Homo sapiens: one gene and its partner. Changing the gene in region 1 together with any one later gene gives a genetic interaction. Each region holds a gene or a part of one and is shown in the gene's direction. Other genes may lie near its edges.

Region 1 (5,786 bases):
CATCATGTTCTTTTTGTGCTTCTTACTTTAAATATTAGAATGAAGAAGGAGCCCCACAGGAAGGAATTCTGGAAGATATGCCTGTGGATCCTGACAATGAGGCTTATGAAATGCCTTCTGAGGTAGGAGTCCAAGCTGAATCTTTCTAACAAGACAGTACCAAAAACCTGTCATTGTCACATTTCTCTTTCATTAGTGCTTAGTGAGAATCATTTGCTCTCTACATGCTCATTACGTGGACAACTTGCAAGTTAAGAATAGTTTTTACATTTTTAAAGGGTCCTTAAAAAAAAAGAGGAGGAGGAAGATGAAGAAGAGGAAGAAAGGATGTAAAAGAAATCATATGTAGTCCACATAGCTTAATATACTTACTACTTGACCCTTTACAGGAAAAGTTTACTAACCCCTGCATTAGAGAATATATTTTTAGAAACTTTACATTCTAAAATAAATTTCTAAATGGAAAGTTAGGGAAATCAATGGAATGCCAAAGGAAGGTTATTATTTTTTGCCATACATGTCCAATGGGATGACGCATAGTAAAATAAAAGTTACCCACACAAGTTATAGAATAAAAAGATAAATGCATGATTTGCGACAATTGATATATTCCAGTATAATGTTTTAAACAACACAATATGATTGTTAATTTTATTTTGATTGAAAATGAAAGTATCTTTAATAGAAAATGTATCAAAAGGGAAATTAGAAAATACTGTTAGATGAATAAAACTGGCCCAAGAAGAAACAGTAAATCTGAATAGATTTGTAACACAGCGAATAGATTAAATTAGTAATAAAAAAAAAAACCTACCTGCAAAGAAAATCCCAGGCCGAGATGGCATCACTGGTAAATTCTACCAAACATTTAAAGAGGAATTAATACTAATTAGTTAACACCAATTAATATCTCTTACAAAACAGAAGAGGAGACATTTCCCAACTAATTTTGTGAGACCAATATTACCCTGATAATCAAAACCAAATGAAGATATCACAAGAAAAGAAACTATATAATGGCTCCATTAAAAATTGAGTTCAAGTATGTTGTAGTTTGGTTATGTATTATTCCTCACGGCATTATTAAAAGGCATGTCGAGGATGGGCACAGCAGTTCACACCTGTAATCCCGCACTTTGTGAGCCAAAGTGGCCAGGTTACTTGAGGCCAGGAGTTGGAGACCAGTCTGGCCAACATGGTGAAACCCCATCTCTACTAAAAATACAAAAATTAGCCGGGCATGGTGGTACACGCCTATGGTTCCAGCTACTTGGGAGGCTGAGGCATGAGAGTCACTTGAACCCAGGAGGCAGAGGTTGCAGTGAGCTGAGATGGCACCCCTGCACTCCAATCTTGGTAACAGAGCAAGACTGTCTCACACAGACACACGAAAGGCATATTGATAATAATTCAACTTATAGAAATTGAGATTAAATTGTTTGTTTGCCTAATAAGAATTTCCAATATTTTGGGGTCTTTTATGCAAGACACAGTACTAAACACAATGGAAAACTATAGAGTAATTGACATTACCAGGACATAAGGAGTTTACAGTCTGGTAGGTTTGATGAAAAAAAATAGAAATTCATTCATTCATTTCTTCATTATGATTCCTTTAACAAACATAATTGATTGTCTTCGATGTACCAGGCATCACAGGAGCAAAAATATATAAGACATACTAAAAAGTAAAACATTTTAAAGATCTGTTTCAATCAATCAGGAGAAGTTTTATTGAGGAGGTAATGTTGATCTGGGTGGGAAAAGGTAAGAGATATAGTAGGTCAAAACAAACAGAGGACATTCTGGCACAAGGGAATATCAGAAGCAAAGGCATGTATGTCTGAGCATGCAAATGGATATGTCTGAGAACAGTGAATAATTATGACTCAAGCTTAGGAACAAGGAAAATGGTGATAGATTGAATTTGCAGCTATGGGTCAAAGACAAGTTATAGAGTATTAGGATAATCTTGTCATTTCAGCTTGTATTCTATTCAGAAAACAACTTGAGTTATTGAAGTTATGCTTATTTGTTTGTTTTTAAGCAGAATCCTGATATTATTAGAGTTGCTCTTTAGGAGGAATAATCTGATCCCTTTAATTAAATCCATTAATATTTGTGTTGTGGATGCTATCCAGATACTGTATGGAGAGCTTGAGGTTTGAAATACAAGTAATAATTGAAGCCATAGATGAAGACGAAATTTTCAACTGGGAGAGTGAAAGTAGGGAAAATGTATCTTGCCTTCAAACATCTTAATTTCCTTCTGAGAATTAGAGCATCTTAGTCTGGAAAAGGCTTTATAGACAGCTTGATTTTGTTCTCACATTTTACAGGTGAAGAAACTGAGAACCAGACAGTCCAACTTATTTGTCCTACCAAACTAGGTATATGATCATTAAATGGTGCATCCGGATCAGAACCTAGATATTTTAACTCTGACTACTACTGTAATTCACTTTTATATCAGACAAGAAAGACACAACTATTAAAAATAAGATAATATTTGCTGCAGAATATTTGCAAAAACATTGATTGTAAATTTTAGTGTAAGTGGGGAGCCATTTCCTATCTCATTGGCTGTCAGTGCTGATGCGTAATTGAAACTTATACTAACAGTGTGTGCTGTCTTTTTGATTTTTCTAATATTAGGAAGGGTATCAAGACTACGAACCTGAAGCCTAAGAAATATCTTTGCTCCCAGTTTCTTGAGATCTGCTGACAGATGTTCCATCCTGTACAAGTGCTCAGTTCCAATGTGCCCAGTCATGACATTTCTCAAAGTTTTTACAGTGTATCTCGAAGTCTTCCATCAGCAGTGATTGAAGTATCTGTACCTGCCCCCACTCAGCATTTCGGTGCTTCCCTTTCACTGAAGTGAATACATGGTAGCAGGGTCTTTGTGTGCTGTGGATTTTGTGGCTTCAATCTACGATGTTAAAACAAATTAAAAACACCTAAGTGACTACCACTTATTTCTAAATCCTCACTATTTTTTTGTTGCTGTTGTTCAGAAGTTGTTAGTGATTTGCTATCATATATTATAAGATTTTTAGGTGTCTTTTAATGATACTGTCTAAGAATAATGACGTATTGTGAAATTTGTTAATATATATAATACTTAAAAATATGTGAGCATGAAACTATGCACCTATAAATACTAAATATGAAATTTTACCATTTTGCGATGTGTTTTATTCACTTGTGTTTGTATATAAATGGTGAGAATTAAAATAAAACGTTATCTCATTGCAAAAATATTTTATTTTTATCCCATCTCACTTTAATAATAAAAATCATGCTTATAAGCAACATGAATTAAGAACTGACACAAAGGACAAAAATATAAAGTTATTAATAGCCATTTGAAGAAGGAGGAATTTTAGAAGAGGTAGAGAAAATGGAACATTAACCCTACACTCGGAATTCCCTGAAGCAACACTGCCAGAAGTGTGTTTTGGTATGCACTGGTTCCTTAAGTGGCTGTGATTAATTATTGAAAGTGGGGTGTTGAAGACCCCAACTACTATTGTAGAGTGGTCTATTTCTCCCTTCAATCCTGTCAATGTTTGCTTTACGTATTTTGGGGAACTGTTGTTTGATGTGTATGTGTTTATAATTGTTATACATTTTTAATTGAGCCTTTTATTAACATATATTGTTATTTTTGTCTCGAAATAATTTTTTAGTTAAAATCTATTTTGTCTGATATTGGTGTGAATGCTGTACCTTTCTGACAATAAATAATATTCGACCATGAATAAAAAAAAAAAAAAAGTGGGTTCCCGGGAACTAAGCAGTGTAGAAGATGATTTTGACTACACCCTCCTTAGAGAGCCATAAGACACATTAGCACATATTAGCACATTCAAGGCTCTGAGAGAATGTGGTTAACTTTGTTTAACTCAGCATTCCTCACTTTTTTTTTTTAATCATCAGAAATTCTCTCTCTCTCTCTCTCTTTTTCTCTCGCTCTCTTTTTTTTTTTTTTTTTACAGGAAATGCCTTTAAACATCGTTGGAACTACCAGAGTCACCTTAAAGGAGATCAATTCTCTAGACTGATAAAAATTTCATGGCCTCCTTTAAATGTTGCCAAATATATGAATTCTAGGATTTTTCCTTAGGAAAGGTTTTTCTCTTTCAGGGAAGATCTATTAACTCCCCATGGGTGCTGAAAATAAACTTGATGGTGAAAAACTCTGTATAAATTAATTTAAAAATTATTTGGTTTCTCTTTTTAATTATTCTGGGGCATAGTCATTTCTAAAAGTCACTAGTAGAAAGTATAATTTCAAGACAGAATATTCTAGACATGCTAGCAGTTTATATGTATTCATGAGTAATGTGATATATATTGGGCGCTGGTGAGGAAGGAAGGAGGAATGAGTGACTATAAGGATGGTTACCATAGAAACTTCCTTTTTTACCTAATTGAAGAGAGACTACTACAGAGTGCTAAGCTGCATGTGTCATCTTACACTAGAGAGAAATGGTAAGTTTCTTGTTTTATTTAAGTTATGTTTAAGCAAGGAAAGGATTTGTTATTGAACAGTATATTTCAGGAAGGTTAGAAAGTGGCGGTTAGGATATATTTTAAATCTACCTAAAGCAGCATATTTTAAAAATTTAAAAGTATTGGTATTAAATTAAGAAATAGAGGACAGAACTAGACTGATAGCAGTGACCTAGAACAATTTGAGATTAGGAAAGTTGTGACCATGAATTTAAGGATTTATGTGGATACAAATTCTCCTTTAAAGTGTTTCTTCCCTTAATATTTATCTGACGGTAATTTTTGAGCAGTGAATTACTTTATATATCTTAATAGTTTATTTGGGACCAAACACTTAAACAAAAAGTTCTTTAAGTCATATAAGCCTTTTCAGGAAGCTTGTCTCATATTCACTCCCGAGACATTCACCTGCCAAGTGGCCTGAGGATCAATCCAGTCCTAGGTTTATTTTGCAGACTTACATTCTCCCAAGTTATTCAGCCTCATATGACTCCACGGTCGGCTTTACCAAAACAGTTCAGAGTGCACTTTGGCACACAATTGGGAACAGAACAATCTAATGTGTGGTTTGGTATTCCAAGTGGGGTCTTTTTCAGAATCTCTGCACTAGTGTGAGATGCAAACATGTTTCCTCATCTTTCTGGCTTATCCAGTATGTAGCTATTTGTGACATAATAAATATATACATATATGAAAATATGTATTTGGTTTCTGCCTCCAGTTCTTACAAAGAGCTCCTAAAACCCTTGTAATTTCCTGAGTAGTAGGGGTGCTAGGGTCATCTTTTGTTCTAATATTTGGTCTTTGACTCTGCTTTCTGACAGAGCTCCTTAGTCCCTGGGTGAGAGTAGCATCTTCTCTTCTAATGAAGTGACTCTTGCTGGGTTCCTGGATGGGGGCTGGTCACCAGAAAGGTCAAGCCATGATAAGAAGCTTGAAGCTTTTGGCCCCATTCACATCTTCTGGGGACGGGAGAGAAGAGGAGCTGGAGATTGAGTTAATAAGCAACAATGCTTCCATGATGAAGACTCCATAAAAATCCCTAAAAGACAGGATTCAGAGTGCTTTGAAATAGGTGAACATGCAGAGGTGCTGGGAATTGTGGTGTGTCCAGAGAAGGCATGCAAGCTCCCCACGCCTCCCCCATACCTTTCCCTGTGCATCTCTTCCATCTGGCTGTTCCTGAGTTGTATCCTTTTATAACAAACTGGTAATCTAGTAAGCAAACTGTTTTCCTGAAGTCTGTGAATCACACTAGCAAATTATCA
Region 2 (2,812 bases), on another chromosome or scaffold:
TGCACACACCAGCAGAGCTAAGACTGGAGTCTCCTGTGGCCTAACTTTCAATGAGGGAACCGGATGCTGTTCACACTTTGACTGGATGGAGATGCATTTACAAAACAGACTGGAGAAGGACTTAATACTCAGATGGATTGGAACTATCATGGTCACTGCTCCTCTCCCCTCCCCACAAAAGGAAAAAAAAGCTGGATTTGATTTTTTTTTTCTGGTCACTCGAGCACATCTAAGATCACCCATTAGGTTTTATCTGGGACCTGCAGTTTGGCTTTGGGATTGATCATCTTGTGGATTTTATTCCTGACGATTCCCTTGCTGCCTACCCTTTTCTCTCCTCTGGTTCTCAACCTCAACGAGTTCAAATCAGTTGTCCTTTTTAGCTCCCGTGGAACTGTTTTGTATCTGCCTCTTTACTAGTCTACCTTAGTGCCATCCACCAGCTTTACTCTCTGACACACACACGCACACACACACACAATTTTAACTTGTTTTTTTGTACATAATGTACATACTGTCAATTTTTTATTAAAAGAAATATGCTTTGATGTGCTAGCATAACTGCTCTAGCTTCTTGTGTACCATAGTACTGTGGCTTCAGATTTAGTACCTATGAACAGATGTACAAGACATTTATTACACTTTTTACCAAAGGGAGTTACCATTGTAGTACTTTTGTGTAAAACTTGTCTTCCCCTTTGCCCCCAACTTTTTTTTTTTTTTTTTTGTAAATAAATAAAGCTTGGTTCTTACTTAAGGAATAAACTCTCAACCCACGTCCCTTGTCCTCACCAGAAAATACTGTGAAGCAGGGATTTTGACTTCAGTTCCTTATCCAGGGTAGAAACAGGATTTTGCTTAAAATACTTGTTACTTGTCCCAAATCAAAATATTCCAAAATCTTAGAATACTTAAGTCTTTTAGTACGTGTTTTTTTCCCTTGTTCAAATAATCTGAAAATATTTTATATTTGGGTAAGTTGTCAAGCTATGTAGTTTGTATTTCTATATATTTTTTCTTATTCACATTGGTGATGGATGGGGGTGAGCAACTTAAATACCAAACCAGTGTTTGAAAAAAAAGTGTGCATAAGGCATGTGGTATACCTTATAAATGGAGTTGGGAGGGAGAGAATTTGAAATGGGATACCTATTTTTTTAATTACATAAATTTAAACTAGCAGACATTTAAACATGAATGATTAGGATTTTTCTATGTGGTTAACCTGGACTTTCTGAACAAAGACCAACTGAGCCCCTCCCAGTACTCTGGTGGATTTTTCTTCAGCAACCATTACGCAAGTCTTAGTTGTAACCAGCAATGTTCTGTGTGTTTTATGTTTGCTTTTTAGTTAAAAATCACCACCACCACCAAAAAGAAAAACAAAATTTTTTGGCTCCTGGATTTTCAAAACACATGGTAGACCTCTCTGATTTTAGGCTTTTATTGTTTAAAGACAGTGTCTCGCTTTATGACCCACACTGGAGTGCAGTGCCACGATCATAGCTCACTGCAGGCTTGACCTCCCAGGCTCAAGCAGTCCTCCCACCTCGGCCTCCTGAGTAGCTGCATGCCACCACGCCCAGCTAATTTTTTAACTTTTTGTAGAGACAGGGTCTTGCTATGCTGCCCAGGTTGGTCTCAAACTCCTGGCCTCAAGCTGTCCTCCCACCTCGGCCTCGCAAAGTGCTGAGATTACAGGTGTGAGCCACCCTGGCCTGATTTTAGGCTTTTTTTGTACTGGGGAGAAGAGACTGTGAGCCAAAGTGTAGGGTGCCAAAAAGAGCTTTGTGGGATGAGATTTTAGGGCAAAGCTGGGGCAGTGTCTGACTTGGCGGTGGTCATGTGTACTGATTTAGGGGAAAGATCTTGAGGTTTTCTCAAATAATTCACCTATCCCCGTGTTCCCTCAAGAAAGGTCATGTTGACCTGGAACCATAGGGGAAATTGGTGGGGTGTGATCAGGGTCAGCCCCAGCTGTTGCTGCCCCTGCAGTGTTTTGTCCAGAGCACTTGCCTGCAGGTCAGGATAGGATTTCAAGGCCAGTTCAGGAGAAAGTCCCAACCCACCAGTGCAACCAACAAAAGAGTAAGTTTTACCTACAGCCTGGGTTTTCACAAGTAGCATTTTTATTCCTCCTGCTGTCTGACATCTGAGCTCCAAGCTCTAAACCCAACCTGTATTATATGCAGCAGCAGGTTATCTTTGTTTTAAATCACATTTGTTATTCTGTACTTAGTCACCTTTCCGTGTGATCTGCATTTGAAATGTTGTAAACTTGGTCAGTATTTCCATTAAAATATCAGGGCTAATCTTGTGTATTTTTTTTTGTTCCTAATGATTTTATAGACAAAGACTCTTGGCAACCCCAGGAGAAAAAAAATAAAGCTGTCAGTGGAGTACTAGGGATGAGAATGAAACTGGAGGTCTGTTTCTGGTATTATGGCTTCCCGGGACTCTACAGTCCTGTATGGTGAAATACATTTTTCCATTGGGATCGTCAATGCCATGACTGTTCTGCCACCTCAAACTCCAGAGTTTCTGGTGATGTGCAAGAGTTAGCAATATACATTCAGTAAAGCGTGTAATCGAGTAAGTCGTAGTAACTTGGGCGTAAAGCTCTACCACCCTGCTCACTAACACCCTGATCTCCGTCCGGTATGAAAACACCTATTCCGGGTAGTCTGGCTCCACGTTAAGCAAACACCACTTTCCGTGTTCACCGACAGCTAGAGCCAGAGGTCTCCCGGTTGCTGCTTCTGAGGCTGGGTCTGCAGCAGCTGAGGCTCCCGCCTGTCTTGCCGAATGGCCT

Evidence for each region. A genetic interaction does not mean that the proteins touch.
Region 2: of SNCA (region 1) and SIN3A, changing one suppresses a phenotype caused by changing the other (phenotypic suppression), as found in Homo sapiens cells (one study listed by BioGRID).

The regions. Positions count from the first base shown.
Region 1 is NC_000004.12:89,723,530-89,729,315, reverse strand, and holds the end of SNCA (alpha-synuclein), read left to right. Parts: intron 1-38; coding exon 39-122; intron 123-2,655; coding exon 2,656-2,688; 3' UTR 2,689-5,217; downstream 5,218-5,786. UniProt on the Homo sapiens protein: Neuronal protein that plays several roles in synaptic activity such as regulation of synaptic vesicle trafficking and subsequent neurotransmitter release.
Region 2 is NC_000015.10:75,368,879-75,371,690, reverse strand, and holds the end of SIN3A (paired amphipathic helix protein Sin3a), read left to right. Parts: 3' UTR 1-2,312; downstream 2,313-2,812. UniProt on the Homo sapiens protein: Acts as a transcriptional repressor. Corepressor for REST. Interacts with MXI1 to repress MYC responsive genes and antagonize MYC oncogenic activities. Also interacts with MXD1-MAX heterodimers to repress transcription by tethering SIN3A to DNA.